Linked DNA regions of Homo sapiens: region 2 is linked to region 1. Evidence: fine-mapped expression QTL. Tissue or cell type: whole blood. Region 1 holds a variant in brackets; the other region holds the start of a gene. All regions are shown on one strand. Distances are between the middles of the regions.

Region 1 (5,260 bases):
GCGCCTGTAATCCCAGCTACTCAAGAGGCTGAGGCAGGAGAATCGCTTGAACCCGGGCGGCAGAGGTTGCAGTAAGCCGAGATCACGCCACTGCACTCCAACCTGGGTGACAGAGTGAGACTCCAGTCTCAAAAACAAAAACAAAAACAAAAAAAAACAACCTAATACCACTTCATTTGTTTGGAGAGACAGTCTCTCTCAGTTGTCCAGGCTGGAATGCAGTGGCACCATCATGGCTCACTCCAGCCTCAACCCTCCTTGGGGCTTAAGCAATCCTTCCCATTTCAGGCTCCCGAGTAGCTGGGACTAGAGGTGCACGCCACTACACCAAGCTAATTTTTGTATTGTTGGTAGAGATGGGGTTTTGCCATATTGCCCAGACTGGTCTCGAACTCTTGGGCTCAATCTGCCCATCTTAGCCTCCCGAAGTGCTGGGATTACAGGCGTGAGCCCTCCTCTGATAAAATTTCAGACGAGCAACTTTCATAGATTACTGATGGGAACATAAAATAGTACACTCAACTTAAAACACCTGTCTGTGAATGTTTTTAACAACTTTATTTGTACGCTAGAAACTATCCAAATGTCAACTGAGAAATGAACTTTAAAAACTATGGTATACCCCATACAATGAGATATTACTTGGCACTAAAAAGAAACAAATTATTCATACAAGTAGTAACAGAGATGAATCTCAAATTAATTATGCTAAGTGAAAAGAAGCCATACTCAAAAGGCTTCCATATATAGGACATTCTGGAAAAAACAAAGCTAAAGAAAAGAAAAAGATCAGTGATTGTCAGAAGCTATACACTGGTTGTTGTGGTGGCTGCACTATGATGCGTTTTGTCAATACTCAAATTGTACTTTTTTTTCACCGTCTTATGGTGCTGATGAACTGTACATGTAAATGGGCGAATTTCACTGTATCTTAATTGTACTTAAATTTTTTGAAAAATGGTGAAAACAGGCTAAATATTTCTGTATTTCACCTCTAAAAAATGTATTTTTTGAATACTTAAATTAAAATCCTGTTCCATAGGCAGATTGTAGTGGCAGTTATAAGAATCTATAAATGTGTTAAAATTCATAGAACTAGGCTGGGCATGGTGGCTTACACCTGTAATCCCAGCACTTTGGGAGACCAAGGCAGGCAGATCACTTGAGGTCAGGAATTTGAGACCTGACTGGCCAACATGGAGAAACCCCATCTCTGCTAAAAATAGAAAAATTAGCCGGGTGTGGTAGTACACGCCTGATATCCAGGTCCTCAGGAAGCTGAGGCAGGAGAATCGCTTGAACCTACAAGGCAGAGGTTGCAGTGAGCCAAGGTGTCGCCACTGCACTCCAGCCTGGGCGACAGAGTGAGACTCTTGTCTCAAAAATAAATAACCCCATGTTCTCACTCTTAAGTGGGAGCTGAACAATGAGAACACATGGACACAGGGAGGGGAACATTATACACTGGGGCCTGTCAGTGGGTGGGGGGCAAGGGGAGGGAAAGCATTACGACAAATACCTAATGCGTACGGGACTTAAAACCTAGACGAGGCTGGGCGCAGTGGGTCATGCCTGTAATACCAGCACTTTGGGAGGCCAAGACAGGTGGATCTTGAGGTCAGGAGTTCAAGACCAGCCTGGCCAACATGGTGAAACCCCGTCTCTACTAAAAACACAAAAAAATTAGCCGGGTGTGGTGGCGGGCGCCTGTAATCTCAGCTACTCAGAAGGTTGAGGCAGGAGAATCGCTTGAATGCAGGAGGCGGAGGCTGCAGTGAGCCGAGATCACACCACTGCACTTCAGCCTGGGCGACAGAGCCAGACTCCATCTCAAAAAAAAAAAAAAAAAAACCAAACCAAACCTAGATGACGGGTTCGTAGGTGCAGCAAACCACCATGGTACATGTATACCTATGCAACAAACCTGCATGTTTTGCACATGTATCCCAGAACTTAAAGTAAAATTAAAAAAAATATATTTCTATCAAAAAATAAATTCATAGAAATCCATATCAAATAAGTCAATACTACTGCATGTTAATTTTCAAAACTAAACTAAAAAACATGTACAGAGCAGCTCTAGAATACATTAGAAGCTTGTAGTAGAAGTTAACTCTTAGAAATGGGTGTCTAGGCCGGGCGCGGTGGCTCACGCCTGTAATCCCAGCACTTTGGGAGGCCGAGGCAGGCGGATCACGAGGTCAGGAGATCGAGACCATCCTGGCTAACACGGTGCAACCCCGTCTCTACTAAAAATACAAAAAATTAGCCAGGCATGGTGGCTGGTGCCTGTAGTCCCAGCTACTCAGGAGGCTGAGGCAGGAGAATGGTGTGAACCCAGGAGGCGGAGCTTGCAGTGAGCCGAGACAGCACCACTGCACTCTGCCTGGGCGAAAGAGTGAGACTCCGTCTCAAAAAAAAAAAAAAAAAAAAAAATATATATATATATATATATATATATATATATATATATATACAGCCTACCTCTCATATCTCTTAGACACTCATTTCTTTTTTTTGTTTTTTTGAGATGGAGTCTCACTCTGTCACCTAGGCTGGAGTGCAGTGGCACCATCTCGGCTCACTGCAACCTCCGCCTCCCGGGTTCAAGACATTCTCCTGCCTCAGCCTCCTGAGTAGCTGGGACTACAGGCACCCACCACCACACCTGGCTAATTTTTGTATTTTTAGTAGAGATGGGGTTTCACCATATTGGCCAGGCTGGTCTTGAACTCCTGACCTTGTGATCTGCCCACCTCGGCCTCCCAAAGTGTTGGGATTACAGGCGTGAGCCACCGCGACTGGCCGAGGTAGGCTATTTTTAACTGCATTTTTTTCTTTTGAATTTCATACTTACTGCATTTTAAAATAAAATTCAAAATATTTAATCAGAAATTTACTTTATTTTTTATTTTTTTGAGACAGAGTCTTGCTGTGTCACCCAGGCTGGAGTGCTGTGGCACGATCTCAACTCACTGCAACCTCTGCCCCCTGGGTTCAAGTAATTCTTGTGCCTCGGCCTCCCAAGAAACTGGTATTACAAGCATGCACTACCAGGCTCGGCTAATTTTTGTTTGGTTGTTTTTGTTGTTGTTGTTGTTGTTGTTGTTGTTGTTTTGAGACAGAGTCTCATTCTGTTGCCCAGGCTGGAGCACAGTGGCGTGATCTCAGCTCACTGCAACCTCCACCTCCCAGGTTCAAGCGATTCTCCTGCTTCAGC[G/A]TCCCGAGTAGCTAGGACTATAGGCAAATGCCACCACACCCAGCTAATTTCTGTATTTGTAGTAGAGACAGGGTTTCACTGTGTTAGCCAGGATGGTCTTGATCTCCTGACTTCGTGATCCGCCCGCCTCGGACTTCCAAAGTGCTGGGATTACAGGTGTGAGCCACCATGCCAGACCAATTTATTTATTTATTTATTTTTTAGCAGAAACAGGGTTTCGCCATGTTGGCCAGGCTAGTCTCGAACTCCTGGCCTCAAGCAATTTGCCTGCCTCAGCCTCCCAAAGTGCTGGGATTACAGGTGTGAGCCACCATGCGCAGCCCAGAAATTTATTTTAAATGGCGTTGATTCAAACATACATTTAGTTTTCATTTTAAAAGCTCAAAGGTAAACACAAAATAACATCAAAATATCCATTAAGGTTATATGAAACTTTTTAAAGCTTAAAGTAACAGACCACCTAATTTTCTTGCCTGGCTTCTCAATATTTGACACCAGAGTCACACTTTTGCTGCTGAAAAGTTGGCTACAAAAAACACGGGCAAACCAGGTGTGGTGGGTGGTTCACACCAGGTGGGTAGGTAGTAATCCCAATGCTTTGGGAGGCCAACTCTGACACATTATTATTAACTAAAGTCCATACTATATTCAGATTATCTTAGACTTCCTCTAATGGTCTTTTTCTGTTCTAGGATCCCACAGAGGATACCACATTACATTTTGTTGTCATGTCACTTTAGGCTTCTTTTGGCTGTGAGTTTCAAAAAACTTTTAAAAAGTAAAACTTAATGTTGTAATTGTCATGTTAAATTTCGCCCTAATTTGATATTTCAATGTATCATAAGTGCTATGATGTGTCCTGCAGCATAGTGGGACCCTCTGTCTAACTTTTATTATGTATTTGTTTGTGATTCAATCTCAGCTCACTGAAGCCTCAACCTCCCAGGCTCAAGTGATCCTCCCACCTCAGCTCCCCAAGTGCTGAGACCACAGGCACATGCCACCATGCCTGGCTACATTTTTTTGTATTTTTTTTAGAGACTGGGTTCCATCATGTAGCCCAGAATGGTCTCGAACTCCTGAGCTCAAGAGATCGCCCGCCTCAGCCTCCCCAAGTGCTGGGATTACAGGTGTGAGCCCACCATGCCAAGCCTGTTTTTATTTTCTGAGACAAGGTCTCACTCTGTCATCCATGTTGGAGTGCAGTGACACAATCTTGGCTCACCGCACCTCCTGGGCTCAAGTGATTCTCCCACTTCAGCCCCCCAAGTGGCTGGGACTACAGGTGCAAGCCACCACACCCGTCTAATGTTTTCATTTAAAAATTTTTTTTTGTAGACTTGGAGTCTTGCCATGTTCCCAGCATGGTTTCAAACCCCTGGTCTCAGGTGATCCCCCTGCTTCGGCCTCCAAAAGTGCTAGGATTATAGGCTTGAGCCACAGCGCCTGGCCTTTACTAATGTTTGATTTTCTGTTTATTTTTGAGATAGGGTCTCGCTCTGTCACTCAGGCTGGAATGCAGTGGCACAATCTCGACTCACTGCAGACTCCGTCTCCTGAGCTCAAACGATCCTCCCACCTTGGCCTCCCAAAGTGCTGGGATTCCTGCTGTGAGCCATCCCGCCCAGCCTCTAATAAAGTTTTTAAAAGCAAATCTGGCCAGGCTACCATTCCCTCAATGAGAGTGTCCCCACACTCTTCCTATGCCCCCAGCCCTAAGACCAACTCACTTAACTCACTTTTACTTTGAAGTCTTGTCTGACACTCCTTCTCTGTGCTCCTTTAGCTTTATGTTTATACCTTCGTTATGGTACTTGTACTGTGACTCCCTGTTTACTTATCTCCTCTACCATAAAGCATGTTCTTTAAGTCCAGGTACTCTTTCTTCATCTATATGCCCTATATAAGAACATTTTCTAGTACACTAGTGAATATTATGTGTTTATTTAGAATAACTAAAGGTCTCCCTGTCACCCAAGCTACGGGGCAGTGGTGCAATCACAGCTCACTGCAGCTTCTACTTCCTGGGCTCAACTGATT
Region 2 (5,000 bases), 140 kb before region 1:
GGGTGACTGCTAAAGGACATAAGGCTGCCTTCTGTGGTGATAAAAATGGTCTTAAACTGATTGTAATGATGCTGCATAACTCTCTTAAGACACTAAAAACCATTGAGTTGTACACTTTAATTTTTTTGTGTTGGCGGGGGTGGATGGAGTCTCGCTCTGTTGTCCAGGCTGGAATGCAGTGGCACGATCTCGGTTTACTGCAACCTCTGCATCCCGGGTTCAAGCGATTCTCCTGCCTCGGCCTCCTGAGTAGGGAATTACAGACCTCGTTATCGTGGCACCTTACCCTTCTGATGTTAAAAAAAAAAAAAAAAAGAGCGAGAGAGAGAGAGAGAAACATTTGTGAAGTAGGTTGTTGAGTCTCAGCACTATTGACCTTTTGGGCAGGATACTTCTTTGTTGTGGGGGATTGTTCTGTGTGTCGTGTGATGTTTAGTGGGATTGCTGGCCCTTACCTACCAGATGCCAGTGTCCCTCCACCCTGAGTTGTGACAACCCAGATTGTCTCCAGACACTCCTAAATGTCCCTGGCCGGCAAAATTGCCGCTGCTCAAGAATCACGGCTTTGACGATTAGACTTTGTGATATTTGTTTCAGTCTGTTTAGGTTTTTTTTCTTCTACCTGTATTTTTTTCTGGTTCTGGGTGGTTGTAATTAGTAGGTTATTGATCGATTCACCTAACATTTCATGAAAGTTTCATGTGTGTGTGTGTTTCAATAGAAGCATAAACTATACTCCCTAGTCTCAAGATACACAGGAAGGAAAATAAGCACAAATGTGTCACCAGGGCACAGACTAGTACTAGGTCCTCAGCAGGCCAGGTGTCTTATCCGCTGTCTGGGTCTGCTCTAGCTCCAGGCTTAGAACCCCTGCCACACGACTCCACAGCTCGGTTGGCACCCTTTCCCTCCTCCGACTTCTGCTGCCTCGAGCTTGGTTAGCCATCCCCCTGCCCCTGCCTCATCCTCAGCTCCAGTTCCTTGCTCAGGCTGCAGCAGTCTCCATCCCCTGTGCAGACACTGCCGTTCCTCCACGGCCCAGTATCAGGCTTTCCCTGGGCCTCTCCTCTCTCCTGGCCCATCTCCCATCATCCATCTCTGCCTGGCCCAGGCCCTTTGGCACCAAGCAGGCTGACTCTTGTCACTGGCTAATCTGTTCTGTGGTACATTTTCTCTCCTCACCCTCCCATATCAATTCCTCGAAGGCAGGGCCGATCTGGAGACTAGGAAGCCACTTCTCTTTCGACAGCCCCCACCACAGCCCAGCCCGTGCCAGGCACCCAGCAGCTCCTGAAGCCCACTGGCATTGAACATGGCATTCAATCCCTGCCAAGCCTGCCCTTCCCATCTGGTTTCCCAGGGCTCTTCCCAACACCTCCTCCTCCACCTGCCAGTTAAAATCTTCCCAGACTCAGCTCAAGGAGATGCTCCTAAGGTGGAATGAAATCTCTTCTTCCCCACCTGGAGACAATCTACTTCCTCTCCCTACACCTGGCAACTGGCGCACAACCTTGTATCTTAAATTAGATTCAGCCTGAGACTGTCTCCCACCAATCCCTGCTCCCTGTCCTGCTGAGCACCTTGAGGAAAGGGCTTTGGGGCTGTTTATCTTTGTCCTGGAAACCATCCTTCAACTCACTCTGGGGCCTGCCTAGCATGTCAACCGAGTTTGGAGAATAGGGCAGAATAGGGCAGGACAGGACAGGACAAGACAGGGCAGGATAGGATAGGAGCGAGCCAGCTCAGTAGCTCACATTTGTAATCCCAGCGCCTTGGGGGGCTGCGGTAGGAGAATCGCTTTGGGAGCAGGAGTTGCAGGCCGCAGTGAGCTATGATCAGCTTGGGCGACTGAGCGAGACCCTGTCTCTAAAACAAACACACAAGTCCGGGCGCGGTGGCTCATGCCTGTAATCTTAGCACTTTGGGAGGCCGAGGTGGGCGGATCACGAGGTCAAGAAATCGAGACCATCCTGGCCAACATGGTGAAACCCCGTCTCTACTAAAAATACAAAAATTAGCTGGGCGTGGTGGTGCGCGCCTGTAGTCCCAGCTACTCGGGAGGCTGAGGCAGGAGAATCGCTTGAACCCGGGAGGCAGAGGTTGCAGTGAGCCGAGATCGTGCCACTGCACTCCAGCCTGGCGACAGAGTGAGACTCCGTCTCAGAACAAACAAACAAAAGGATAGAAAGGCGAGCACAAATATTCCCAATTCATAACACTCCCTCGCACTGTCAATGCCCCAGACACGCGCTATCATCTCTAGCAAACTCCCCCAGGCGCCTGCAGGATGGGTTAAGGAAGGCGACGAGCACCAGCTGCCCTGCTGAGGCTGTCCCGACGTCACATGATTCTCCAATCACATGATCCCTAGAAATGGGGTGTGGGGCGAGAGGAAGCAGGGAGGAGAGTGATTTGAGTAGAAAAGAAACACAGCATTCCAGGCTGGCCCCACCTCTATATTGATAAGTAGCCAATGGGAGCGGGTAGCCCTGATCCCTGGCCAATGGAAACTGAGGTAGGCGGGTCATCGCGCTGGGGTCTGTAGTCTGAGCGCTACCCGGTTGCTGCTGCCCAAGGACCGCGGAGTCGGACGCAGGTAGGAGAGCGGCCGCGCAGACCTCTCGCCTGCTCCTGCCCAGGGGCCCGCCAGGGCCATGTGAGCTTGAGGTTCCCCTGGAGTCTCAGCCGGAGACAACAGAAGAACCGCTTACTGAAACTCCTTGGGGGTTCTGATACACTAGGGGGAGTTTTATGGGAAAGAGGAAGCAGTAATTGCAGTGACGCCCCGTTAGAAGGGGCTTTCTACCTCCCCAGCATTCCCCCAAAGCAGGGACCACACCATTCTTGACCCAGCTCCACCCCTGTCGGTAGGTGCTGGCTTCTTCCCCTCTCCTGGTGGTGGTGGGTGGTTCCCGCGGCGGCCTGGAGCCGGAGGGGCGCGCGACCCTGGGCTGGGAGCTCCGAGGGCCTGGGAACGAGACCTGAGACCTTGGCTTCTCGAAGGTAGTAGGGACTTGGGAGTGGTGACTGAACCTGGTCTGGCTCCTCCTTACTTCCTCTTGTTGCGGGTGGGACGAGCTAGCTTCCGCCTCTCCCAGCCACTTTTTCCTGCTCATTTGCAGCTAGGTTGGCTCCCCTTTTGGGAATTTCCTCTCCCCTTGGCACTCGGAGTTGGGGGGTGCCACCTAGTGGAAGATAACGGAGCTAGGGTCTTGAAGAGGCTGCTGTCCCCTCTGGCTGTTTTGGCGGTGTAGGGTGGCATGAGAGACTGCGACTCGCCTCCTCATCCCTGTTTCTGTATGCGAGTGCTTGTATTCAGTAGAAGCATACACTATACTCCCTCAATTTAGGGTAAACAGGAGGGGCCACATGCACAGGTAATTCACCAGGGAGCCGAACACTCCTGTGCAGACAGACTCCCCTTCCCAGCAAGCCATGGCAGCGGACAGCCTGCTGAGAACACCCAGGAAGCAGGCGGTGCCAGCTGCAGGTGCTTTGCCTGGGAGCTGTGGGGCTGAGGAGAGGGTCCACTGTCCAGGACCAGTGAACTTCATCCTTATCTGTCCAGGAGGTGGCCTCTTGGGGATGCTGAGTTAGGGGAGGGGCACTTGAGGAAAGCCAGGTGGAGCAGAGAGGATGTGAGTGACTGGGTGGGTGAGATTTCCTGCCCCTCCCCCCGCAGTGGTATCCACACCTAGACTCGTGGGGTAACTGAGGCACAGACAGAGAGCAACTTCTCAGGCCCTCACAGTTGGCAATTCTAGGATTAGGACCCAAGTGCGATTTTCAGGCAGTCCCTGTACCCTGTTTCTGTTGTACCTGTTGCACCATTCCCAGGCACTGCCCATCGTGCCACTAGTGATATGAACCCAGGTCCAATACGCTCTGGGGCCATCAAAGCCTGACGTCACCATGACCTGATGTGTGACGTGTTATAGGTGTCCCTTGGTATCTTCACGGAACTGGTTCCAGGACCCCAAAATCTGTGGGTGCTCAAGCCCCTGAGATAAAATGGTGTAATATTTGCATATAACCTATACATACTTTAAATCATTTCTAGATTACTTATACCTAATACAATGGAAATGACATGTCGGCTGGGCGTGGTGGCTCATGCCTGTAATCCCACCACTTTGGGAGGCCGTGGCAGGTGGATCACCTGAGGTCTGGAGTTTGAGACCAGCCTGACCAACATGGTGAAACCCCCATCTCTACTAAAAATACAAAAATTAGCCAGGTGTGGTAGCGCACACCTATAATCCCACCTACTTGGGAGGCTGAGGCAGGAGAATTGCTTGAACCTGGGAGGCGGAGTTCGCAGTAAGCTGAGATCGCGCCACTGTACTACAGCCTGGGTGACAGAGCAGGACTCCATCTCAAAAAAAAAAGAGAAAAAGAAAAAGAAATGCCATGTAAATAGTTGTGATCCTGAATTGTTTAGGGAATAATAAGAAAGAACTATCTGTAGATGTTCAGTATAGATGCACCCATCGTAAGCCTAACTACATTGTATAACTCAGCAACGATGTAACATTTTCAGGGGTTTTTTTGTTTTGTTTTTTGAGACAGAATCTCAGTCTCACTCTGTCACCCAGGCTGGAGTATGTTGGCGTGATCTCTGCTCACTGCAACCTCCACCTCCTGGGCTCAAGCGATTCTCCTGCCTCAGCCTCTTGAGTAGCTGGGATTGCAGGTGTGCGCTACCACGCATGGCTAATTTTTGTATTTTTAATAGAGATGGGGTTTTACCACGTTGGTCAGGCTGGTCTTGAACTCCTGACCTTGGGATCCGCCCACCTGGGCCTCCCAAAGTGCTGGGATTACAGGCGTTAGCCACCGCGCCCAATATATTTTGATCCCTGGTTGGATATGGAGGGCTGACTGTACTTAACATCTCTAAGCTTCAGTTTCCTCCTTTAAAATAAAGGTGTGGCTGGGTGTGGTGGTTCAAGCCTGTAATCCCAGCACTTAGGGAGGCTGAGGTGGGTGGATCAGCTGAG

What was found. PIP is the estimated chance that this variant, and not a neighbour inherited with it, causes the effect.
Region 2: GRN starts here. The variant in region 1 is fine-mapped to the expression of GRN in whole blood (TOPMed, PIP above 0.99).

The regions. Positions count from the first base shown.
Region 1 is chr17:44,480,742-44,486,001 of GRCh38, forward strand. The region is part of intron 1 of GPATCH8 (G-patch domain containing 8); the gene reads right to left. Among named protein-coding and RNA genes, the nearest start is that of GPATCH8, 20 kb to the right of the region's middle. The variant G/A (reference allele first, on the strand shown) is at 3,221.
Region 2 is chr17:44,342,739-44,347,738 of GRCh38, forward strand. It overlaps GRN (granulin precursor), which reads left to right and starts at 2,564. Exons shown (of 13, transcript NM_002087.4): 1 at 2,564-2,596. RefSeq lists enhancers at 610-1,535, 2,687-2,836.